Linked DNA regions of Homo sapiens: regions 1, 2, 3 and 5 are each linked to region 4. Evidence: fine-mapped expression QTL. A gene starts in region 4. Each other region holds a variant in brackets. All regions are shown on one strand. Distances are between the middles of the regions.

Region 1 (5,107 bases), 67 kb after region 4:
GTTTCAGTATGTGTGTTATACCCTTAACATTTTTCACATGTGTCCATAGCTGTGGTCGATTTGCTTCAGGAATTAACAGATATAGACACCCTCCATGAGAGTGAAGAGGGAGCAGAAGTGCTCATCGATGCTCTGGTAAGTTGCACATCCTCTGGGGTTTTGCAGGTTTGTATAAGTTGTTGGCATTGCCACCACCATCGTCTCGGAGAGTGGCCACCAGGTGGAACTCCACGGCAAGGCTGGAGTGTGGTGAGGCTGGAGTGAATAAGGAGAGTAAAAAAGTAGAGATGTGGCTGGGGCAGTGCTTTATGCTTTGGGACTGTGTCAGGTAGAGGCCTCGCCCTTATTAAGTCTCTGCTGTGGGCAGGGCCATTTCTCATTCTTCTCACCACATCCTCTCACATGGGCATTATTGCTATTATTTCCATTTACAGCCATGAAGCTGTGACTTAGGCCAAACAAATGGCCCATGGTCACACAGCCAGGATTTGAACCTGTGGTCTCCTAGACTCTATGTTTTCTGCCCCTTTCTTCCCTCCTCTCTTTTGTTGCTACTGACCTTTTTACAAAGAGCTTTCACAAATGTTTTTCTCATCTGGACTTTCTAATCCCAAGTGCCAGTGAGAACAGGTATTATTATTATTACTTATTTTACAGATAGGTCATCAGAGAGGAATTGGAGAATGTCGAAAATAAGAACAAACTTTATAGCTCATTGAGGCCAGAATGGCATTCCCTGCCTGTAGACGACAAGGCAGTTGATTTCTGCCATCTTTTGAGGAGCCTAGGCAAGGCCTCAGAATGTTCCTTAGCTATTGATCCACACAGCAGCTAACCCAGAGGAGTTGGTCTGTGAGGCGCAGCTGTGACCAGGTGCCAGCTAGGCAAACTGCCTTACATGTGAGGAAACCCAGCTGCAGAAGTGAAGCCTCCCGCTGGGTCGCTCAGCCCGTCCTGTGACAGCTGATAAAAGAGACTGCATGTTCTGATCCCCAACACAATTCTGTTTCCACTGCCCCAGATTCCCCAGTTCACTGGTGATCAGAAAGGGCCACAAAGCTGCAAAGGCACCCCAGCTGGCCAGCGGCAGAAGTGCATCTAGTCCAGCCCCTACCCTGATACCACCTGTGGAGCTCTGTCCACCTGCAGAGCTGTATCCCTCCTCAAGGCTCTGTGGATTGTTCTTCTTCTGTTGTTTCTCTTGTCTTTTCTCTCTGGTAAGAATGTTAGTATTGGTTTTGACTCAGTTAGCAGTTGATCAAAGATTACTCCAGCCACTAGTATTAGAAGCACCTGGGCTGCTTGTTTGGCTACTTTCTAGTCCTACCCAAGACCCACTGAATCAGAATGGCTGGGCCTGGGGTCCCAGATGATCCCGAAACCCCACTGCTACACTGCCCACCCCCTCCTCACCCTTTCTCATAATGTTCTCGACACTAGAAATTTCCCATGTGCCGTGCTTGCTGTTGGCATTTGGTGTGAATGAAGGGGTTGTGAACCCACTGGTTATGAAGAACTGGCTCTTACAGAGAGTGAGGCTAGTGTCCAGCAGGGCCATTTATGACCGAATATAATGAAAATTTCTATGGCCATTTTTCTTTCAGGCTCCTTTAGAGAGCAAACTGCTACTTTTGTAGAATTCAGGGCATTTATTTTTCGTTTGAACCACTGTGCAGAAAGAAGAGGATGATGTTGGGATGTCGTTTTGTTTTGAGGGGCGTCTGAGGAAAGACTGTGGCACTTGCTCCTACTCTGTGTCCCTGCAGTGTCGTTTGTGCAGTCTTACCTTCCAGAGGTTAATTACATGGCCCTGAATGAGCCTTCCTGCTTGGTCCCTGGGCTGATTTTAATTACCATCCTTTGCCTGTCTGAATAGGGAAGACGAGAGAGGAACAGCTAGCCTGGCTGTTGCATGTAAAACATACCCAGAAACAGCAATTCACTCAAAAGCCCCCTTTGTTTTTTCTGTGTTGTCAAGCCCACTGACAAAAGCTGCATCTTGGCAGATTTTATTGTTTGTTTGGAAAGAAACAGTTCACCCTCAGTCTGGGGAGCCACTAGGTAACTGCTATACAGGATGTTCTGTTTGTTTAGTTTAGTTTTTATTTTTATTATTATTATATTAGTTTAAGATTTTGACTCTTACAGGTTTATCCTGGTGGGGCTGGTAGGAATCACAAGCATTGAACATTCCTGGACTCCAGTAGATTATTTGCTTGTCTGCAACCAGTCGGAAGTCATCAGTAAATATC[A/G]GAGAACAGAACCAGCGGTGGTCTTCCATTTACTTTTTTTACTCTTGGCTGCATTCAGGAAGAAATTTGATAAGTACTCTCATATTACAAGGGTTGAGTTGTCTTTGTAGTTTTAATTTGAGGCCAATATCTGAGGCCTAGAATTGCACGAGCAGAGGCTAGAGGGCATGTGGCAGAATTTATTGTGGTGTGCAGTTTGCAGTTATTGCTTTGGTCTTTTTCCCAGTTGGAAGTCCTAAGCAATAGGATGGCACATTTGTGGGGAAAGAACACTGTCCTGGCATTCTCAGGGATCTTCGGGGTTTTAAAATTTGGTTCATATCCACTGCTGTTACTTACGCAAAAGGCAAATATTTGTGCTTTGTAACAAGTTGATCTGGTAGCCTGGAAAATGGACTCTTTTCTGAAGAGTGGTAAGCGAGAGGGTATATTGCTTTGATGGCAATTCTCTGGCTTACCTCTCCAAAGATGACTTTGGACTTCTTGAGAATGATGATTAAATTACAGTCATTTTTCTACTTGCCAGTCCCCAAACTTGCCATGTGCTAGGTAGTCCCATGCCTTCGCTCATGCTTTGCCTTCCACTTGCCTAGCCTTGCTTCTCTGGGGCTACCTGGAATACTACCTCTCATCCCTTTATCTCTTCCCTTTTGAGTTTTTTCCAGACTCATCACCTCAGCAGGATGTGTTGTTCTAGCACTTTGTACATTCTGGCACTTGTCACATTGGATTATAGATGTCTGTTTATAAGTTTGTCCTTCCTGAGGTGTGATCCCCGTCAGGGGAGTGGTCAGAGCAGTGACTTTGTCATTTACCAATTCTGTGTCCTTGGGAAAGTTACTAACCTCTCCATACTGTTTCTTTCTCTGTAAAATGGAGATAACAGTAGTGCCTATCATACAGTACCAAAGTGATGAACAAGTGAGATATTTAATAAGTCTTTAGAACAGTCTGGCACAGAGTAAACACCTGATAAATGTTGGCCATTATCATTATAAAGGTACTATGCCTGGCAGATATTAAGCATTTAGCAAATGTCAGGTTAAAATTGTATGTATCATCTACCACACAGTGAGATGTCTGTGAATATTGAGTTCACAAACATTTTTTTCAGTTTAAAAAATATTTCAAAAACATTTTGAACAAACACTCAATAAAACCACATTTGGATGGGGTGGGCCTAAATAAGAAATGAGAGGATAGAGCTTTAGTTTAAAAAAAAAAAAAAAGGAAGAAGTAAGTAATGATAATACAAGGCAGAACATTGAAAACAGCTATGAGAGGGGCAGTGTTCTGTGGACATGAAGAGAGAGTGCTCGCTTCTGATGGAATAATCAGGAAGGGCTGCAGAGATGCAGGCATCGGTGATGGCCTCTGAAAGGGGGCTTTAATATGAGAGCATATGGAGGTGTCCCAGCCAACAGAGATGGAAGTGTGGCTGGGTGGTGTAGCTGGCCAGTGTCTAGGAGCCAGCATTTGCTTTATAGAAACGCTTTATAGAGTTCCACAAAAAGTGGCTTTGATGTGGACTGCCAGGGGACTACCCTCCATACTCATTCCTGCACTAAATTAACTCTACTGAAATGTTAAACTTTGAAGCCCTATCTTGGTTTGCCTTGGACTTGGTTGGCAATGGATTTGTGCTGCCCAGGTGAGGCTGAGGTTGGCCAGGTTTATGTTGCTGTAAGGGTACTTACTATGAAAATTCCTGGATTCTATTCCTTCCCATTTCCATTCATGTTCTCACCTTCATCTGTATTTGTTCCAAAGCAAAATTCATTTGTTCATTTGTTCACTAAATGTTTATTGAATGCTTGATGTGTTCCTGATTGTAGGAACCAGCTATATAGCTGTGAGCAAGCCTGACAAAGCCTCTGCTTTTGTGGAGCTCACAAGGTATGAGTGTAGGGAGAGACAGTAGATACATAAACAAGAAAACTATCAGAGAGTGGTTCTCTGTTTAAGAGAATTAAAATAGAGTGATGTGATGTAGAGTAGCTGGGAAGTCAGGTTGGATTAAATAGTCAGGCAAGGCCTGAGTTCTGGAAGAAACCAGCCATTCAAAATGATCAAGAGCAGGATGGGAAAAGGGCAGAAGACCTAAGGCAAGACTGAGGTTGACATATTCAAGGAACAGAGAAGGGGCCAGTCTTGTTAATGTGCAGCTGGGGCGAGGGGAGAAAGCAGAGTCAGGGCCAGACCACGCTGGGCTCTGTGGGCCTTGGTGAAGAGGTTGGGTGGCATTGCCAGGGTGAAGGGAAGTAATTAGAAGATATAAGCAGGGGAGTGGTGTCATAGCCTGACAGCATTTTAAACAGAGCATCTAGCTGCTGTGTGGATAATGGACTGGAGGGGCAAGAATGGAAGCTAAAAGGTTACAGCTAGGATACAACAGGCCTGAGTTTTGCATTATGACCATGTTACCATATTATTCTCAAAACTTGTTTGATCAAGATTCAGTGGGTGTGGGGTTTTATTGTTATTACTGTGTTTTAAATATGAAATTCCTGAAACTCCTAGTAGGCAGAAAAATCCCAATCTCATTCTTGAGAAAGCTTATTGGCAGATCGTACCAGATAGAAAAAGAAGCCTCCTTCAAACCCTCTCATCTGTCTCTTTTTTATTTCCTCCTCTTCTCTTATATCCATCCTCTTTGGTCAAGTGGAAGATGATGTGTGATCATGCCCTTGAACTTTAACTCCCGGAATATTGTTTGGGATGCCTGCTAACAATCAGAAATAACAAATGACTTAGCAGAAAACATCACACCCCAGACAGTCCTGATTTCCAAGGCAAGGGTTGCCCTGGCTGATGCTTTAATCCCTAAGCAGGATTTGTTTTTAGTTTCAGACTTT
Region 2 (5,107 bases), 47 kb after region 4:
TTTTTATGGAGGACTGGTCATGTAGGCATTCTCTGCCTGTAATAACAATAACAACCAAAATTGTAGGCTCCTGGAAGGAAAGCAGCTGTTCAGTGCCCCGGGCTGACAAAGCAGCAACCTTATCACTTAGGGAACATTTCAAAAGCCAAATTCCTGGCTGCCAGCCTAGGGCCAGCCTTGTAAGCTAGCCCTTTTCAAGATCAGCCCCGCAGTTAACATATTAACTCTCCTGCATTATTCTTTTCAGTGCCCAAAGAAGACTGATCGTGCCTGCCGTTAGTGATAGCTTTACTGTGGAGATCATTTCAGAGGCTCTGAAGTTAGACAGATATTGGTGTGATACACACATCCCTTTGAATAAGTTACTTCCCCTTTCTTAGCCTTGGGTGTCTCATCTGTATAAGGAAATAATGCCTTCCTCACAGGGTTGTATGAAGATTAAAGGAGAATAATGTAAGTGTTTAGCTTAGTACCTGGCACATAGTAGGTGCCCATGAGATGATAGTTAACGTGAGTTTTACTACACTGGCACCTTGGTGCACTATGAAGTGCTATGTGAGGAATCTGGCATCTTTCAGTCAGTCTTGAATCCTAACCAAGGGGACTTTCACATTTATACGATTTTAATGTTCTAAACCTCTCTTTCTTTCCCTATCTTTGTCCCTCCCAGGACATACAATTTTAATGAATCTTAATATGCCCAAGGCCCCCAGGCAATTAACAATTGAGTAGTACAGGCTTTGCACTCAAGTTTTTAGGTTACTAGGGAGACTGACTATAAAGGCAAGGTAGAAGGAAACAGACACTTTAAAAGAGATATAATAGGAGAAGAAACAGTAAATACCAAGTTGGGGGCTATTGAGGGTGTCACAGAAAAGATAGTAGTTGAGCTGGGCCTTGAAGATTCATTTTTATTAGGCGGAAAAGAACACAGGAAGGCATGCCAGGCAATATGAGGAGCATGAACAAAGGCACAGAGGTGTCAGCGGGCACAGAGTCTTCATGGCAACCTAGAGAGGCCAGCGTGGTCAACTATGTTGTCCCTGTGCTGTGGATGAGAAGGCAGAGTGGGGAGAATGTGGTTACTGGGCCTAGGGCCACAGCCCTCTTTGATAGTAGGAGTAGCTATTAATAGATCAGGGCCCAGCTTATCCAGCATTAGAGTCCTATCAGGTTTTGTACTGATCTCCACCATACAGGAGCACTGTGTGTGTGTGTGTGTGTGTGTGTGTGTGTGTGTGTGTAATTACACAAGTAATGCATGAATAGATTGTCATTCTGAAAATACCAGTGGTACATGAGTAGAGTGAAAAATGAAAGTTTTCCTTCACTACTCTGATCCCTTTCCATTCCTCTGCCTAGAGGAACCTTGTGAACAGTTAATTATGCAAATGTATTTGTTTCTACTTAAATCATACTGTGCATATTCTGCACCTTGATTTTTTGGGTCATCTAACAGATCTGTCCAGGTGGTACATGCATATCTACCTTGTGTTTTTTTAATTGGTGCATAGTATTTCATGGTTTGGAAATACCATGACTTATTTAATTATTTTCTATTAATGGACATTTGATTATTTTAAAATCGGCTTTTATGAAAAATGCTATAGTGAACCTACTTGTACATGTGTCTTTGTGTGCATATATTTCCATAGGATAGATACCTAAATTTTGAATTCCCAGATTGAAGGGTATGTACATTTTAATGATAGCTACTGCCAATTTTCTCACTGTATTTTTAAATTCTCCCCCCAGCAGCAGCATCTCTTTTCTTGTGTTCTTGCCCACAATGCATGTGATCAGTCTTTAACATCTTTGCCATTTGTTTTGTTGTTATTTCTGTACTCAGTGGTTCCTGCATTAGACTCTGTTCCTTTTAGGAGATGGACGGTGTCTTGTTTGTCTCTAGTGCCTACCACAGTACTTGCCTTGCTGTAGGTGTTCAGTAAACATGAGAGAGCTCATGTAGTCCCTGTCGTCTTTATTACATCCCCATTGCTTGAACCTAAGGATACATTATGAGGAAGCTATGCTGCGGGTAATGATACTGGAAATTTAAGAAATTCAGTTTACTTCTTTGAACACCAGTATTTCCTTCGCCCGCTTGGTAGATACACGTCTCTCAATTTGGAGCAGAGTTTCTGCAGGTTATGTTCACCATCTACATCTTAGGTACCTTAGTGTTACAGTTCATTAACTGGGTTTAAGACAATGTGATTTTATTT[A/T]AAAAAATCGGTAGTGTTTTCCATTCAGACAAAATGTATATACTATTTTAGTTTTAAAATCTGAGCATATGAAAATTGAAATTGTGCATAAAGAACTTTTTTTTTTCATGTCGAAAAGCAGTTAGGAAACTACATTGTGTTTTAACCTTGAGTTCTTGAATTCTCACTGGTGCAGTGTCTTTCGTAATTCTCTAGATCAGCGAGGTGAAATTAAGATGAAAATTGCTAGAGTGTATTCGGATGAAACTTTCCGGTTGAGATCAGAAACATTCAAATTTATTTTCCCATATATCCAATTGTCATTTTGATCGCATACCCAAAAATGCCTCTCTTCATTTGACTGCATTTGAGATTCAGTTGACAGTTCTCCTTATGCACCCTCCAATTTGCACTGCCTGATCTTTCTCCTAAACACCACATTGACTAGAGTGTGCTGTTTCCCTAGAAAGTCCTTTAATAGTTCTTCTCTTCATTTTTGCAGGGACAGAATTACTTAGTTTACTGATTTTCAACCTTTTTGGTCTCAGGATCTCCTTGTACTCTTAAATTATTGAATATCCCAAAGTGCTTAGAAAATTCTGGCAAATACAAGAATAGACAAGCACACATTTCATTAGCCATCAGGGCAGTGATGTCATCATGTCATGGAGCCCTTCAGAAAACTCCATTGTACACTCCTGAAAGAATGAGAGTGAAAAAGGCAAATGGTGTCTTAGATTTATTATAAAATAGTTTTGATCTTATAATTCCCTGAAAGGATCTCCAGCCACCCCGCTACCCCATCCTGGGGTCCTAGGACTACACTTTGAGAACTGCTGATTTACTTGGATGGAGGGAGCATCATGTTCCCCCAGCAGTGATTGCATTTAGGACTTACCAATTTCTGTGGCTTTCCCAGTGTTTTTGAACTTTGCTGGTCATTTGCTGATATTCACCCTTGTGGTTGAAGGAGAATATCCTGCTGGTCTGAAGCAAATGCACATGGGCAGCCTAGGAAAATATTCTCTGTCATATTAGATGGAATCGATGACCCCATCTCAGCCTGGGTTACTGTTTTAATATGTTGCTCTATTGCTTTCCCGTCACCTCTAACTTTATCCTTTCCCCCAGCTGTGAGTCATCTATTGCTGAAGGTATGCCTAATTCCTAAAGACAGTTCTCTGCAAATAGTAGTGTGTGCTTTAAATGAGTAGGCTCATGAGTAGGCTGTGCTTGGTCAGGCAAAACAGAAGACGACTGTTATAACAAACTTGAGGGTACATAGATTCATTGAGTACTTGTATGTGCCAGCTATTATTAGGCACTGTATATATATTATCTCTTTTAATCCTCACTATAGGAAGATAAGGAAATCAGGGTCTAGCAATAAGTTAGTTAATATTCTGTGTCTTCCTTGATCAGGTTGGGACACCACGCTCTGTGTTCCAGTGACACTTCTCTTGGTAGTACCAGGCATGCTTATAATTAATGGTTTGTAATAGATTATTTATATTTAATGGAGGCCAGAAACTGGGATTATTTTATCTGTTATATCCTCAGTGCCTAACACAGTGACTGGCACCTAGTATGTGCCTAGTAAATATTTGTCAATTCACTGTTCATGGCCACACCTCTAGTAAATAGCATGGCTGGGAGTATGACCCAGGTCAGTCTCATTCCCAAGTCCAGCATTTCTCACGGTATCTTGTTACTCACATAACACTGGACCCAGTATATTTTTGTAATATTTCCCTGCTTGCAGTTTTATTCTCTGCTTGTTTGTTTTATTTTGATAATTTTCTGACTTCCTAAACTTAAAAGCACTGGGTTAAGACCATATTTGGAAGAAGAATTTCAAAGTTGGAAGGAACTGAGAAGCACAGTCTATTCTACCATCTAACTCTTGGTATTTTTTTTTTTAATGTCATCCTTTATTAACTATCCCAGTGAGAAGGATCTAACTTTCCAAAGAAAGCTATTCCATCATTTGGCAGCTTTGACTCTTAAAATTTCAACTCAGAATGAGAAAGCATTTCAACAAATTCTTATATGAGATGTATCTAGACTCCTTAGAATCTTGGTTGTTTCCCTGAATTGGTTTCCACATCCCTCCTAAAAGATGGTTCCTTGAACAGATGTCACAAAGTTTTAGGGTCATTGAATCAGCATAACTCTGTATTGTCCTCTTTTAAGTACCCTAAAACCACCGTAGCACTTGTGGCAGCTGTTTTCATCTGTGCCCCCATTTACAGGCATCTCCCAAGTTTCTGTGTTGGACCAAGGCCTGCGTCAGGTGCTGGATGTCCAGAGATGAATAAGAAATTGTCTCTGGCAGAACTGGCTCATGTTCTGATTTGTATTACAGTTATGGTTCAATAAAGCCATCAAGTTCAGAAAGAAACACATGTGCCCTTATGAAACTGTATCTCTCCCAGCCTTTACATTTGTACTTGACTTTTTGGTTCATTGCAGTTTTCTGTGTGGATCCCAGGTATTTTTCCTTTGGTTAGATTTGGCACATCATTATTGCCTGTCAGGAACTTTTGAATTGATTCTGTCAGCTGCTGTGCTTACTGTCTCTTTAAGCTTTGTGTCATATAACATTTTTTCATTTTGCCCTTTATCTATCTTTGCTCATGTTATTGATTAAAAAAAAATAATAAAATACTTGATCTAAACAGGCCTAAGGACAGACCCCTCCAGGTGACTAACAATCGTTCAATTACTTTATTTATTTATTTTTTGAGACAGAGTCTCACTGCATTGCCGAGGCTGGAGTGCAGTGGCACGATCTTAGCTCACTGCAACCTCCACCTCCCAGGTTCAAGCAATTCTCCTGCCTCAGCTTCTCGAGTAGCTGGGATTACAAGTGTGCGCCACCACACCTAGTTAATTTTTGTGTT
Region 3 (5,107 bases), 110 kb after region 4:
TAGTGATTAGTTTCCTCACATGCTTGCGCTTGTCAGTTCTGGAGACTGGAAGGGGCCCTCTGCAGATCTCCGTGCAGCTCTCTGCTGTGAACTCTAGCTGCATTGCTCTGCCGGACTCCTAGCTCTGTCTCCTCCCTTCTCTGAGGCCTGGAAACTTTCCAGGCAGTCAGTTGGGCTCATTGCATGTGTTACCCTCCTGATGTCAAGTGTCTAAAAACCATTGTTTTGTTCATCTTTTTTTTTTTTTTTTTAACTTTCAGGGTTAGGGAGGGTGTAAATCCAGTCCTTGTTACCCCATTTTGGCCCAGAGTGGAAGTCCAGCAGTATATGACACTTTTTAAGCTACATTTTCTTATTCTTTATTCCTGGTGGGTAGTAATGCAATTAACTTGTATATTGATCTTATATTTAGCAACTTTGCTCTATCACATATCAGGCCTCAGTCATAACATGGTTATTTGTTGGAATAAGAAGCCCAAAATTTCAAGGACTTTCAATGACAGGTGTTTATTTTTCACTCATGGTTCATTCATCACTGGCCGTCAGAAGCTCAGCTCTACACCTTCTTTATTTCAGGACTCAGGCTGAAGGAGCAGTGCTTCATGGTACATGCCTGTCTCATGGTAGAGGGAAGAGACCGCATAATGCAATAAATCTTAAAACTTCTCCTCTGAAGTGCACATGTTACTTACATTCACGGTTTATTGGCTGTGCACAGTCACATGGCCAAGTGTGAAGTCTGTGGCGGGCGGTGGGGGTGATATGGGTAGTGATGTGTTGGAGCCGGCTCATGTAGGTTCATGAGAGCTGATGGTGCACATCTCTTCCTATCACTGCATTTAGTGATACCATATTAGTAACTTGAAATTGCCTGTGGTCGTATTTATTATTTATTTATTTTTTGTTTCTGTTTTTCTTTTTCCACCCACCCCACCCTCTGGCTGTGGTCCTATTGATCTTACTGTCTAATTCATAGAAATCCTGAATCCTGTAAAGTGATCTTGTATTTCAGACTCTAATGTAAGTGAACTTCATCATGCACGTTGTAAAGCAAAGAAAATATGATCTCATGTGGCATTATCTGTATTTCTTGCCACGATTAGTTTATGGTTCACAGAATATTTTAAAGAACACCTTGTTGCTTTTTTTTTTTTTTTTTTAATCAGTCTCCCTTGTCCAGGAAAGGAGAGGGTTTTACCTCTTTCATTTGTCCTTCAAATAAGTTTCCTTCAAGGTCCTAGTCTTCTGTTCTGAATACTTTCTGTACCCTCCCAGGGTAATCTTACTCACACCATGGATTAATTACTGCACATAGATTTGATGACTCTTTCAAAATTTTCCCTATTGGTGACTTCATTATTGGGCTTCAGACATAAAAGTTCAAGCTGGACATCACGCCGTGTTCCACAGGCATCTCAGGTTCAATCAGAACTCAACCCTTCGCACCCCCGCCTTTCTTACCAGTCTTTCTGCCTCTGATATTGTTTCTCTCTTCCTTCTGCTCCCCCATCCCTGTTACTGTCCAACACACTGTGGCAAGCATAATCTTTCTTATACACAAAAGTCAGCCTGTCTTCTGTTTTGCTGCTGCCCCTCTTCTTACTCTTTATATTCTAGCAGTACCATGCTCCACTTCCCTAAATGTCCCATGCTTAACGCCTGTCTTTGCATGTGCTCTTGTTTCCTTCTGCATGAAATACCCTCTCCCTCTTTGCGTATCCAAGAAAAACATCCCCTGCAGCTTGGTTCAGGCATCATCTCCTTTTTAAGTCCTCCCTGACTCAGACATGGTCAGCCCTCCTTCCTGCGTTCACTCTGCTTTGTATATACCTCCACCGTAGGACTTAGCTTTTCTCAGTCTGCCCATTCTCTGCATGTCTGTCTCCCCTGTGGACCAGACTCCTTGGAAGCAATGAGCTGTGCCTTGTCTCTGCATCCTGGACTTAATATCTGGCACCTGCTAGGTACCTCATAAATATTTGATGAGGGAACAAATGAACAAAGAAAATCATACTCAGAATCTGTGTTTATAGCAAAAGTGTTTTTGCATAATAAAGAAGAATAAGCTAATTAAAACTACAACAGAAAACGTTTTCTCCCACATCAGAAGGCTCACTGTTAGCAGAATAGGGAGCAGTGGATGACTCTCCACCATTTCCCACAACCCCCCAGTTTTATAGAGGCTAGCATTCACATTGGTTCTGGCGTGATCGACAGCCTGATGAACCCAGACAAGACTAAGATAAACTACTTGTCCTCCAGTAGAATAAATATTTCAAATAAAGTCAACCCAAGAAAGGCAGGCCAAACAGCTATTGATTTCTAAAAGCCTGAACTCAAGCCCAGTGAATATTCCAAAGTTCACCTCCATGCTGCTTGCCTAAGTGGTGATCAATATGCAATTACTGCCCCCTCTAAACATGTCTTACACTGCCTACCTCAAGAAGGATTTTACTTTTAAAATCTTTTGTTTGTTGAATTTGCTTAGGCAGGAAAAAAAAAGAGAGGCTTGGCTACACCAGAGTCTTTTGAATTGTATTTCAAACAGTTCTGTGTTATTTGTGAAATGGTTTGAGCGTATGCTGAATGGTAACTGAAGGTGCCCTATTTTATGACCGCCATTCATTTCAAGAGGCCTTTTCCTGAGTGACTAAACAATACAGATATTATATCTCAAT[G/T]TCCTAAATTTTGCTCACATGGTTATCTGTCCTAGTCATGACTTTTATAAATTCAAGCTTGTAAGATGCTGAAGTCCAGCTGCAGTGAAAACAAGTCTCTGTTAGAATTTTCATCTTAATACAAAAAATCCCTTCGTACTGAATTTGGAGCCTTGTTTACCTGGCTCCTCATATTTAAGATTTCATGCTTCTCTCAAATAGGCCTTTTTCATACCATTGCTGTAGTCAGAACCTTTGGTCATTTCTCATTTTTGTTGTTGCCAGAGTCTCCTAACTGTCCTCCCTTACCCCCAAGCGGTGTCATTCCCGTCCCTTCTTCACATTGCTGCCAGATTAAGCCTTCTAAAATGTATCTGTCCAGGGCCCTCCCTTGTTTGAAATTCTCATGCCTTCTCGACATCTACAGGATGGAGCCTGGGTTCCCTGACAGCACGTGTGGAGCCTGTCATGACCGTGTTCCTCGCCGCCTCTCCTCAGTCATCTTCCACCACTGGCCATTCGGAACTACCTCTAGTTCCCTGGCTGGCACGCTCCTACAGGCTGCACACACCTTTGCACATGCTGTACAGCCACCACTCCCAACAGTGTCCTTGCTCTTCGTTCTCTGCCTGGCAAATACTCATTCCTTAGACTCGGTGCAGAAGTCACCTGCCATTTGACACCTTCACTGACTTCTCCCAAGGCAAATTATCTCCTCTTCTCATCATCTTGGACTTAATTTCCATTGCTTCAGACTTTTGAAAGCATTTTTATTTACCTCTTCTTACATTGCTTAAAGACAAGGACCTTATAACTCCTAGCAGCTAGCATAATGTCTGCTGCATAAAGACATATGCTCAATAGTATATGCCTTTTTTTCTTTGAAACTCAGTAGTTGGATTGATGGGCATTTGTGAATCTTTGTATTGTTTGATTGATCCACAAGGGAAATAAAGATAGGAATAGGTTAGCATGAAGTAGGATGGCCAACGCTCTCTCTTTGCCCAGGATTGAGAAGTCTGGGATGTGTTACTTTCAGTGGAACAGTCCTAAGTAAACCAGGATGGCCTGTAGCTCCAAGGGGCACTATCAGCAAGCTTTGTACCTACTCACCTTTCCTCCACTATTGGGACCCAGTCCTGGCTGGCTAGTCTGACCCAGGATAGCACTCTTTGTGACCAGTAGCACTTTAATAGTGCAGGGTTTTAATAGTGTTGTGTCTGCAAAAGACTGTCCAAAGGGGATATTATTTCTGATTCCTTTTCTTTGGCTTTCACATGAGAAATTGGATGAAAGGCTCTGGGTTGTTACCCTGTTTTTGATGAATACTGCCTTCTCTTGCAAGACCAGTCACCTCTCTCCAGCTGTTTATTTCTCCCTTGTTTATCTTTGGTCTCCACATCACCATTAGCTTTTCTTAAAAGTAGTAGTTTAAATCTTGACCCGGCTTCCCTCTCTTGGGGTTCCTCCTCCAGGCTTTACTAAGGCGTAACCTACACTCACCCTTCTTACTTTCTCACCTCCTTTTACTTTTCACTCCACTTCTGCCCTACCACTGCTCTCTGGAAGGTTGCTAGTGGCTTCCTGATGGTGAAATCTGGTGGCCGTTTATTTTGCTTTTTTGACAGACTGGAATCTCTTCAGAAACTGTCTCCTTCCTCTAACTAAAGTATTCCCTGCTTGTGTGCCCACTGTACTTATTATTTTGTTACCTAGTTTTTTGTTCATTTATTTTAAATATTTACATGTATATTATTCTTTCCCCACACTCTCCCAAATACATGTAATTTGTCTCTCTCACTTTAATGTAACACATGGCAATCTCAGAACCAACATGTTGAATTGCATCCACTTTACTCCTGGAATCACTTCTTCACTTGGATGCCTTGTGGCCTTTGATACAGCCCATGTTTCCCTCCCTGATCGAAGCTAGGAACACTCTGCTCCTTGGCGTACCTCAAACACACCAGTCGCCTGTCTACAGTTCATTTCTATTTCAGGACCTCTGTGCTTGCTGTTCCTCCTGTCTTGAATGTTGTTTTGCCCCTAAAATTTACATGACTGATTCATCTTATCACTCAGTTCTCAACACAATGTTACTCCTTAGGAGGCTTTCCTTAATAACTGAATCTAAGAGATCCACGCCAGTCATTCCTTCACATGTCCTCGTTTTACTTCCTTGACACTAACCATTATCAGGTATCTCAATTTCTCTTTGTCTCCTGCCTTGAGAATGTAAATTGCTTGAGAACTGGGACGCAATCTTTCCCAATCATGTGAGAGTTATCCAGTAAATATTTGTAGATTGAATAATACATGGGGAAAATTATATGCTGATTTATACTTTTCTCTGATCCTTTCATATTACTTTGGTCTCCCCAGATTTAGCTTTTTTTTTTGGAAGCAGAACCCATTTCTTACTGTTTTCTCTTGTGTCTACCACAGTGCTA
Region 4 (5,107 bases):
AATCTCCACTTTGCAGGTGAGAAAATCAGGCATGTAGAGGTGAAGTTCATTGCCACTGTTTCCACATCTGTAAAATAAGACTCATATCAACATTTTCTCCATGAGGTTTTCACCCAAACTAGAATGTAGGTTTCCAGAAGGCAGGAGCTTTGTTTTATAAACTTCCATATCCTCAGAGCCCAGAATTGTGCCTAGCATTGAGTAGGCTCTCAGTAAATACTTGTTGAATGAATGAATGAATGAATGAGTCATGTTACAGATAAGGAAAGTGTAATTTAGGGACAGAGAAAGTAACTTACCCAAGGACCCATGGCTAGATATGGTGGAACTTCCACTAGAACCAGAATCAGGGTGTGTTGGGTAGATGTTTAACAACTGGCTCGGCTGGGTGCAGTGGCTCATGCCTGTAATCCCAGCACTTTGTGAGGCCAAGGCGGGGGGATTGCTTGAGCTCATGAGTTTGAGACCAGCCTGGGCAGCATGGTGAAACTCTATTTCTACAACAACAGCAACAACAACAACAACAACAAAATAAGCCAGGCATGGTGGCGCACGCCTGTAGTCCTAGCTATTTGGGAGGCTGAGGTGGGCTTCAGCCCGGGAGGGGGAGGTTGCAGTGAGCTGAGATCCCGCCACTGCACTCCAGCCTGGGTGATAGAGCCCGAGCTTGTCTCAAAAGCAAACAAAGAAACAAAAAAACCCTACAAGTAGCTCTCTGGAAAAACAACAACATTAACAACCCTGATTTGTAGCATTTGCTGATTTACATTGTACAAATACTCCTAGCATGGCTGATTTCAAGCTATCAACCTGGTGTCAATCAGCTTGCAAGTTTCCTACAAATTTAACCATGGGCTTTTGTAGACCTGTCTGTGCAAGCTGGCATCAACATACCATGAACTAGAACACAGGGGTCTGGGTCCAAAGGGTACACCCTCACCATTACTCTCTCCTGTCTTCCCAAACAAGGCACAGTCTATATTCTATTTTTTTTTTTTTTTTTTGAGACGTAGTCTTGCTCTGTCGCCAGGCTGGAGTGCAGTGGTGCCATCTTGGCTCACTACAATCTCCACCTCCCTGGTTCAAGCGATTCCCCTGCCTCAGCCTCCCAAGTAGCTGGGACTACAGGCACGTGCCACCACACCTGGCTAATTTTTTGTATTTTAGTAGAGATGGGTTTTCACCATGTGGGCCAGGAAGATCTCAATCTCCTGACCTCGTGATCTGCCCTCCTCGGCCTCCCAAAGTGCTGGGATTACAGGCGTGAGCTACCACACCCGGCCGGGCACAGTCCATATTCTTATATAAGTAGGAGGGGGAAAGACACCCAAATAGACTGAATTCAATGCAGATTGCATAGGTGATCCTTTAAAAACATAAGCCCAGTCACAAAACTACCTTGCTTAAAACTTTCCTTATGCCGTTAGCATAAAATCCAATCTCTCTCTCTTTTTTTTTTTTTTTTTTTTGAGACAGAGTCTTGCTCTGTCACCCAGGCTGGAGTGCAGTGGTGGAATCTCAGCTCACTACAGCCTCTGCCTCCTGGGTTCAAGCGATTCTCCTGCTTCAGCCTCCCAAGTAGAGGCATGTGCCACCATGCCCAGCTAATTTTTGTAATTTTTAGTAGAGACGAGGTTTCACCATGGTGGTCAGGCTGGTCTCAAACTCCTGACTTCAAGTGATCTGCCCGCCTTGGCCTCCTAAAGTGCTGAGCTTACAGGCGTGAGCCACCACGCCCGGCCACGCCTAGCCAAAATCTAATCTCTTTACCATGGCACACAAGGCCCATTATGAAACCTCTCCCTCTACCAGGCACTGTACTAGGCTTGGGGGATACAGTGGTGAACATGACACACACATGTCCTGCTTGCATAGAGCTTGCAATCCAGTAAATGAGGCTGTCAAGAAACAAATAGTCAACCATTAAGCACAAAATTACAGAATGAGATATATACGTAGTGGAGCAGGTACTTGGAAAAAGAATAATGAGGAGAGAGGTTGATTACCTGGACCAGGGTGAGTTGAAGAAGCCCTTGTAAGAAAGTGACATTTGAGACCCGAAAGATGAGAGAATTGGATGAGGTATGGTGCTGATGGCCAGGCAGAAGGGGAGAGGATTTGTCATTCTGAGGAATAAGAATAATTTCTGTATAATTGGAGCCAGTGCAGATGGGATGGGGACCAAAATTATAAATATGAAGGGCATATAAATATAATATAATACATAAATATAATTATAAATATAAAGGACAGGGGCTTATGGAAGGAGGTTTAATTTCCTTTGAAGATGGAGCCTTAAGTCCCAGGTGCATTCTGATCTTGTTTAAGATCAGATGCACTCTGAATGATTCTCTTCCAATTATGGGCAACTTTCTCCTCCAGAAACCTTTTTATATCACCTGGGTAGCAAGGGGATCATCTAGTGACCGTTAGACTTCGCATAGATGAGCAGACACAAGCCTAGAGAGGGACATGTGATCACCAATAGTTTCTCAGCCAGTAATAGTTGTACAGCCTTGGAACAAGTCACTTTTTGAGCCAGCACTATCTGATAGAAATTAATGGGAACCACAAATGAGAGCCACATGTGTAATTTAAAACTTTCTACTAACCACATTTAAGAAGTAAAGAGAAACAGGTAAAATTCATTTTATAATATATGAATTTGACCCAGTATATCCAAAATATCATTTCAACCTGTAATCAATGTAAGTCTTAGAAATCTGGTGTGTATTTTATTTACACTTATGGCACATCTCACTTCGGAGTAGCCATATCTCAAGCGCTCGGTAGCCATATGTGGCTAGTGAGTAAAGTATTGGATGGTGCAGTTGGGAGCGTCAGTTTCCTTTTCTGTGAAATGAGGATAAATCACTGGAAGCTCGTGAGAGCGCACACGAAACACCCGGCACTCCGCCCTGGACACTAGGGACGCGCAATCAAGTTTGGTTTCTTCTGGTCCCTGCTCTCCCCTCCCGCCCCTCCTCTAAGTCTCCGCCCCCTTTCCCCGCCCCCTCAGGCTCCAGGCGGAAGCAACCCTGTTCCAAATGCAGCGCGCTTTACGGCGGCGCGTCCTTTTACCGCGGTGTGGCCGGCTCGCTTGTCGCTCGCACTTTTGCCCTATTGGCTCTGCGGCTCCGCTCGCCGCACTTTACGGCAGTGTGGCTGGAGCCGCGGCTGACGGGCCCGCGGTCTGGGCGTGAGTGCAGGGAAGTGGAGTATTTGCTGGGCCGGGTACCATGGACGTGGGCGAACTTCTGAGCTACCAGGTATGAGGGGCAGGGAGGGCCGAGCGACCGCGTTCTCACCTGGGCAGGGGTCGCAGGAGCCAGAGCCCTTTCATCTCACCTCCTCTCGCCTCACTCCCGGGCCCTCTAACTTCTCATGCCACCCGGGGTCTCAGCCCCTCGTTTTACTTTGCTCTCCGAAGCCCTCCTGGGCCCTTTCGATTCATCCCTTCTCAAGACCTGAGCCCTTCACCTCCTCTTCCTCACCCTGGGGCCTGGTTCCCTGAAACTCCTCTGAAACCCCAGACTATCCTTTTTTTCACAACCATGTCCTCTCAGCTCTCATGTCCCCCCAGTCATTGAGGTGATGGTGGTGGCGGCGGTGGGAGTGCACTGGTCTCACTTGGATTTGATCTCCAGCTTCTCCACTGACTGGCTATGTGGCTTTTGGACAAGTCATTCCCCCCCTCTTTGAACCAAGTTTTTGTATCTATATAGTGGAGACACTAATAACTGCCTTAGTAGGGTTGTTTGAGGACTGTACCAACTGATATGTATGAAAGCTGGTTTTAAAGTGTGGAAAGCTGTGCTTGTGTTTACTGCGATTTGCAGGAGATGTTGGGAATTCTAGCATGGAATGAGTTTCTAGGAATCTTGCTCAGGGTCCCCCTTGCCTAGGAAACTTGTGGGGAAACTGTATGGGACCTAGAGAGCAGAAAGGGCTTGTCCAAAGTCACTCAGAAACAAGGAGCTGGAATTTGAGCTCAGGCGTACTGACTTCCACCCCAAAGTTTTTCCCCCACTTTGATTCCATAGGAGGGTCATTGCGAGGAGCAGTAGAGCTGCACTGCCGAATGTCGTAGCCACTAGCCACATAGGCTGTTGATTGCTTGAAATGTGACTAGTCTGAATTGAGAAATACTGTAAGTATAAAGACACATTTGGGTTGGAGACTAGTATGGAAAAAGTGAAATTTTTATATTGATTACATGATCGTACTGATTATATCAATTACATTGGTTATTGGTCATATTGATTAAATGATCATATTTTGGATAATGGGTGAAATAAAATATACTTAATTAATTTTTAAAATTTTATTTTATTGTTATTTAGAGACAGGATCTTGCTCTGTCGCCCATGCTGGAGTGCAGTGGCACAATCATTGCTCACAGTAGCCTTAAACTCCTAGGTCTAAGGTATCCTCCCAAGTAGCTAGGACTGCAGGCAGGCATCACTATGCTTGGCTGATTTTTAAATTTTTTGTAGAGACAGGGTCTTGCTATGTTGCCCAAGATGGTCTCAAACTCCTAGCCTCAAGCAGTCTTCCCACTTGGCCTCCCAAAGTGCTGGGATTACAGGTATGAGCCACCACACACCACACTCAGCCAATAAAATATGTTTAAAACCAATTTTAACTGCCCCTCTTGACATTTTAATGTGTTTACTAGAAAATTTAAAACAACATATATAGTTCAGCTTATATTTTTGTTAGACAGCCCTGCAGTCAAGAATAGGTGATTAAGAGCCATGAGTCTGGACCCCTAGGTTGCTGGCAGTCTCTGTTTTGCTACTAACTGGCTGCTGTAACCTTGAACAAAATACTTAATTTCTCTCTGCCTTGGTTTCTTCATCTGTAAATGGGGGACAGTGACGGTAGCTGCCTCACAGGGCTGTTGTGAAGCTGTTGAGAAATGGAAAGTCCTTAGACAATGCTTGCCAAAGAGTAAACATTCAGTAAATATTAGCAGTTATTTTCATACCACTCCCTCAGCCAAAGTACAAGAAATTGACCCTGGACGCTTAAGACATCATGGGAAAGAACAGTTCAGCAATGGGGAGCTATATAGCCAAGAGATTTTTCTTTTAAAGACAGTTTA
Region 5 (5,107 bases), 94 kb after region 4:
AGTTTATACGCCACAATTACAGTGTTATAATATTCTGTGTTTTTCTGTGTACTTATGGTTACCAGTGGGTTTTGTACCTTCAGGTGATTTCTTATTGCTCATTGGCATCCTTTTCTTTCAGATTGAAGAACTACCTTTAGCATTTCTTGTAGGATGGGTCTGGTGTTGATGAAATCCCTCAGCTTTTGTTTGTCTGGGAAAGTCTTTATTTCTCCCTCATGTTTGGAGGATATTTTCACTAGATATACTATTCTAGGGTAAAATATAGTTCCTTCAGCACTTTAAATATGTCATGCCACTCTTCCCCTTTAAATATGTCATGCCACTCTTCCCTGGCCTGTAAGGTTTCCACTGAGAAGTCTGCTGCCAGACATATTGGAACTCCATTGTATATATTATTTCTTTTCTCTTGCTGCTTTTAGGATCCTTTGTTTATCCTTGACATTTGGGAGTTTGGTTATTAAATGCCTTGAGGTAGTCTTCTTTGGGTTAAATCTGCTTGATGGGGTTTTGTAACCTTTTGTTCTTGCATATTGATATCTTTCTCTAAGTTTGGGAAGTTCTCTCTGATTATCCCTTGGAAAAGACTTTCTACCCCAATATCTCTATCTCCTCTTTAAGGCCAGTAACTATTTGATTTGCCCTTTTGAGGCTATTGTCTAGATCTTGTAGGTGTGCTTCGTTCTTTCTTATTCTTTTTTTCTTTTGTCTTTGACTGTATTTTCAAATAGCCTGTCTTCAAGCTTACTAATTCTTTCTTCTCCTTTATCAGTTCTGCTGTTAAGAGACTCTGATGCATTCTTCAGTATGTTGCATTTTTCTGCTTGATTCATTTTAACTATTTCAATATCCGTAAAATGTAATAGGATTTTGCGTTCCTTCTGTGTTATCTCAAATTTCATAAAGCTTCCTCAAAACGCTATTTTGAATTTTTTATCTGAAAGCTCACATATCTCTGTCTTGCTGGCATTGTCACTGGTCTCTTACTTAGTTCATTTGTTGAGGTCATGTTTTCTTGGACGGTCTTGATGCTTATGGATCTTTGTCGGTGTCTGGGCATTGAAGAGTTAGGTATTTATTGTAGTCTTTGCAGTCTGGGCTTGTTTGTATTCATCCTTCTTGGGAAGGCTTTCCAGGTATTTAGAGAGTCTTGGGTGTTGTGATTTAAGTCTTTGGTCACAGCAGCTGTGTCTGCATTAGGGGGCATCCCAAGCTCAGTAACACTCTGGCTCTTGTAGACTTGTAGAGGTACCACCTTGGTGGTGTTGGGTAAAATCGAAGAGAATTCCCTGGATTACTAGGCAGAAACTCTTGTTCTCTTCCCTGACTTTTCCCCAAACACGTGGAGTCTCTCTCTCTCTCTGTGCTGAGCTGCCTGGTGCTGGGGGAGGGGTGAGACAAGCAAGCACCACTGTGGCCACCACTGGGACTGTGCTGGGTCATTCCTGAAGCCAGCACAGCACTTGGTTTCACCCAAGGCTCACATTGACCACTGCCTGGCTGCTGCCTGTGTTCATTCATGGCCCAAAGGCTCTACAGTCAACAGGTGGCAAGTCCAGCCAGGCTTGTGTCCTTCCCTTCAGGACAGCAAGTTCCCCCCAGCCCCAGGCAGCTCTACAGATGCCATCTGAGAGCCAGAGCCTGGACTTGGGAACCTTAGAAATCTACCTGATGCTTTACTCTATTGCGACTGAGCTGGCACCAATTGGATTTGTTTTTTTTGGAGGGCATCTTTTTTTAGAGAACCAACTCTTGGTTTTGATATAAATATGCATATGTATGTGTGTACATATATATATATATGCATATATGTGTGATATAAATATGCATATGTGTATTTGTATATATATGGTCTACAATGCTTGTAGCATTTTGTATATTTGTATACCTTTCCCCCGCCTTTAATTCTTTTTTTCTACTTTTTTGTTTATTCTGTTGCCCTTTTTCCAAGTTTGTGAGTTAAACGCTTAATGCTTTAAAAAATAATTCTCTTATTTAAAAATAAAAACATTTCAGGTTAAAAAATCTCCTTTTAATATTGCTTAGTTTTATTCTCTATTCCCAAGTGATTAAGTCTTATTTTCCTATTACATTAACAGAAAATAGAGGCTATAAAATACATTTCTGAATTTGAGATTTTGTTTGTGGCCTTATACTTGGGTAGTTTTTATAAATATTCCGTGAACATTTGAATAGAATTTGTGTTTCTAGGGTATAAAGTACTATAATTATAACATAAATCAACTTTGTAAACATATTCCGTTCTTTTCTGTCCTTTTTATCCCCTAATTTGTTTAGTCTCTAACTATGGTTGTGGATTTTTTTTTTTCTGTTTCTTCTGATCCTTCCTATATCCTTAGCATTTTTTTTTTTTTTAAGAGACAGGATTCCACTATGTTGCCCAGGCTGAAGTGCAGTGGCTGTTCACAGGAGGCAATCACAGTGCACTGCAGCGTTGAAGTCTTGGGATATGATGATCCTTCCAAGTAGCTGAGATTATAGGCACCTGCTACCACACACCTTTACTTTTTATGTCATTTTGTGTTACGTGTAACTCTTGTTAAAGACACATAACTGTGTGTTTTTTTTTTTTTTTTTTTGAGACGGAGTCTCGCTCTGTCGCCCAGGCTGGAGTGCAGTGG[C/T]GGGATCTCGGCTCACTGCAAGCTCCGCCTCCCGGGTTCACGCCATTCTCCTGCCTCAGCCTCCCAAGTAGCTGGGACTACAGGCGCCCGCCACTACGCCCGGCTAATTTTTTGTATTTTTAGTAGAGACGGGGTTTCACCGTTTTAGCCGGGATGGTCTCGATCTCCTGACCTCGTGATCCGCACGCCTTGGCCTCCCAAAGTGCTGGGATTACAGGCGTGAGCCACCGCGCCCGGCCCATAACTGTGTTTTTTAATCCAGCGTGAAAGTTTGTCTTTCAGTAGATGAATTTAACTATTTGATTTTATAGTAATTACGTTTAGCCCTTTTCCTGTTTGTTTTATGGTTTCCTTGGTTGTTTTATTGTTTTGTCTTATCTTTTTTTCACTTCCATTATTTTCCTTCTTCTTTGGAGATTTGGAAAATACTATTCTTTCTATTAGTGATTACCTTTAGTTTTTTAGAAATGTGGCTTTATTTCTTTGTCTATGAACGTTTGAAATTGTTTCTAGTCCCCTCAAGATCTGGCCTCTGCCTCATCCTCCTACTGCCATCTCTTTCATTCTTTCCTTTCTGCACATTTACATTCCACTCTCTAAACCAAACTATTTTAGATCCCTTGACACATTTTGTTATTATTATTATTTTGATGACTCACTTTTGATGTTTAGGCTTAAACTTCTCTAAGCAGCCATTTTCTTCCATGTCTCTTCCCCCACGTCTGTCCTCACATCCCCACCCCTAAGTTTTGAAGGTTGGGTGCTAGCATCCTTTGCTGCCTCTGTCAGAGCACTTTCTGCACCATGCATGGTAAGTTGTACGGCTGTGTCTTCAATTGTACTGTAATACTTTTCAGAGTAGAGACAGAGTCTTCTTCCTCTGTATCTCCAGTATCTAGCAAAAGATACACCTTTGGTTTTCTGTGTTTGGTTTCTTAATTTTCTAAATTAATGAGAAACATTTTGCTGTTTAGGATCATTGGCCCACGGAATTTTTGGCAAACCGTGTTCATAGACCCAAAGGAAGAGGAGTTAAAAAGCCTGTTGCCGAGAACTCAGTCTCTTGCCTGAACATATTTAGTTCTGTTTTCCCTGTCAAATTTTTCAGTGCATGGAAAGCACAAAACGGGGCCATAGTGTGTTGTAATCCTGATCTTGAGGCTCAGGGGAGGCTAGGAGTCCACTCGAGTCCTGGGCTCCTGCCCTGTTTGGCCTGTGCCCATGCTGGGCTTCAGAACAGAAGCTGCATAAGCTCCCCAAATGAGCTTATTCTCCTTTGCCTTTCAACTCTCTTCTTCCGTTATCCTCCCAGGTATTTAGGATTATATTAGGTTTTCAGTTCTTATCACCTTTCTTCTCAAGGTTCTAAGAAGTCCTTCATGCAGATTTGTAGTCTCTGAGCTTTCATTTCCAGGAGCTGTTTGTGAAGCACTATTACCTACTCGCCCTTACCTCACAGCCCTCTCTCCTCTAGTTTTCCCTGTCACACAGGTGACTTTTCTCCATTCCTGTGTTCAAACTGTCTGGATTTCACAGTGCTTGACAGAATCAATAAGAAGAAAAGCTTTCTTGTTTTTCTCTCTTTGCCAAAGGACAGATGAAGACATCTTGGAAAAGAAGAAAAGATTGTTGAGGTGATGTTTAAAAGTGGAACTCGTGCTGTGAAGAAAGCAGCGGGTAGCCATCCTAGAGTACAGGAACCAAAAAAAAAGAAAAGGAATTTCTCATTTGCTCACATTAGTGTCTTGATAAATGAAAAGAAAAGATGAGGTAAGGGTGGAAGACGCAGAACCTCTCAAGCAGTGGACAACTGTGTACTGAAAGGCGGAGAGGACCAGAGTCTCTGATGTAGAAGGAAATGCTCCTTTGTGCATCGGGCAGCTCAGCCTGCTTCTTTCAGTTGGATAGTCAACAGTTAGGTTACAGTAAGGATGTTTGGATGGTCTTTGGTGAGCAGCAGAAGAATTAACATATGAACATGAATGAAGTGGTAGTTTTGTAGTCTGTGATGTTTGAGAGTAAAATAAAATTCAGAAAAGTCACAATTTATTGTGCTGTTTAACAAAGTGATCAGATTCAGAGGTTCCAATCCACAAAAATAAGACAAAATTATACTTACCTGGGGTGGCCATTTTAGAATTAGTCAGGAAATGAGGATGGAACTGTAACAGTGCCCTCATTGTCCCTGGAGGGAGACTGGTTTGCCACTTCCGTTTCTTTGTTACAGATACCTCTCTTTGGTAAGATGGTTGCTACAAATAGAAGATTCCAATATATCAGGTTTAATTATAGCCTGCACTCTAAATCATTTGCTTCTTGCCACCACAAAGCACTTTTTAACAGTATGTCCTTGTATCAGAATACTTCAATGTTCTGTAAGGAGCAACAGAGCCAGTGGGAGACAAAAGAATTATATTGTCAGTTTCCTTGAAAATGTTGACATGAAGCTTATTACTTCTGCTGTA

Which allele goes with the higher level. Positions count from the first base shown, and alleles are read on the strand shown. Sizes are in standard deviations (SD) of each study's normalised expression. Not every link is listed here.
In carriers of allele G in region 1, the expression in thyroid of the gene that starts at base 3,147 in region 4 tends to be higher than with A alone (moderate effect, 0.72 SD a copy in GTEx).
For the expression in prostate of the gene that starts at base 3,147 in region 4, T is the high allele of the variant in region 5 and C is the other (large effect, 0.78 SD a copy in GTEx).

What was found. PIP is the estimated chance that this variant, and not a neighbour inherited with it, causes the effect. A credible set is the group of variants that fine-mapping cannot tell apart.
Region 1: its variant is the best candidate, but not a certain one, in a credible set for the expression of CTNNBL1 in thyroid (GTEx, PIP 0.66).
Region 2: its variant is the best candidate, but not a certain one, in a credible set for the expression of CTNNBL1 in whole blood (TOPMed, PIP 0.61).
Region 3: its variant is the best candidate, but not a certain one, in a credible set for the expression of CTNNBL1 in whole blood (INTERVAL, PIP 0.74).
Region 5: its variant is the best candidate, but not a certain one, in a credible set for the expression of CTNNBL1 in prostate (GTEx, PIP 0.60).

What each region holds. Positions count from the first base shown.
Region 1 is chr20:37,757,522-37,762,628 of GRCh38, forward strand. CTNNBL1 (catenin beta like 1) reads left to right here. Exons shown (of 16, transcript NM_030877.5): 5 at 38-135. Among named protein-coding and RNA genes, the nearest start is that of CTNNBL1, 66 kb to the left of the region's middle. The variant A/G (reference allele first, on the strand shown) is at 2,253.
Region 2 is chr20:37,737,874-37,742,980 of GRCh38, forward strand. All of the region lies in intron 3 of CTNNBL1 (catenin beta like 1), which reads left to right. Among named protein-coding and RNA genes, the nearest start is that of CTNNBL1, 46 kb to the left of the region's middle. The variant A/T (reference allele first, on the strand shown) is at 2,226.
Region 3 is chr20:37,796,213-37,801,319 of GRCh38, forward strand. The region is part of intron 10 of CTNNBL1 (catenin beta like 1); the gene reads left to right. Among named protein-coding and RNA genes, the nearest start is that of VSTM2L, 100 kb to the right of the region's middle. The variant G/T (reference allele first, on the strand shown) is at 2,679.
Region 4 is chr20:37,690,884-37,695,990 of GRCh38, forward strand. It overlaps CTNNBL1 (catenin beta like 1), which reads left to right and starts at 3,147. Exons shown (of 16, transcript NM_030877.5): 1 at 3,147-3,269. The coding sequence starts at 3,240. It overlaps LOC105372609 (a long non-coding RNA gene), which reads right to left and starts at 393. Exons shown (of 4, transcript XR_936703.1): 1 at 300-393; 2 at 1-67. RefSeq lists an enhancer at 3,425-3,484.
Region 5 is chr20:37,784,763-37,789,869 of GRCh38, forward strand. All of the region lies in intron 10 of CTNNBL1 (catenin beta like 1), which reads left to right. Among named protein-coding and RNA genes, the nearest start is that of CTNNBL1, 93 kb to the left of the region's middle. RefSeq lists enhancers at 981-1,482, 1,483-1,982, 3,698-4,897. The variant C/T (reference allele first, on the strand shown) is at 2,643.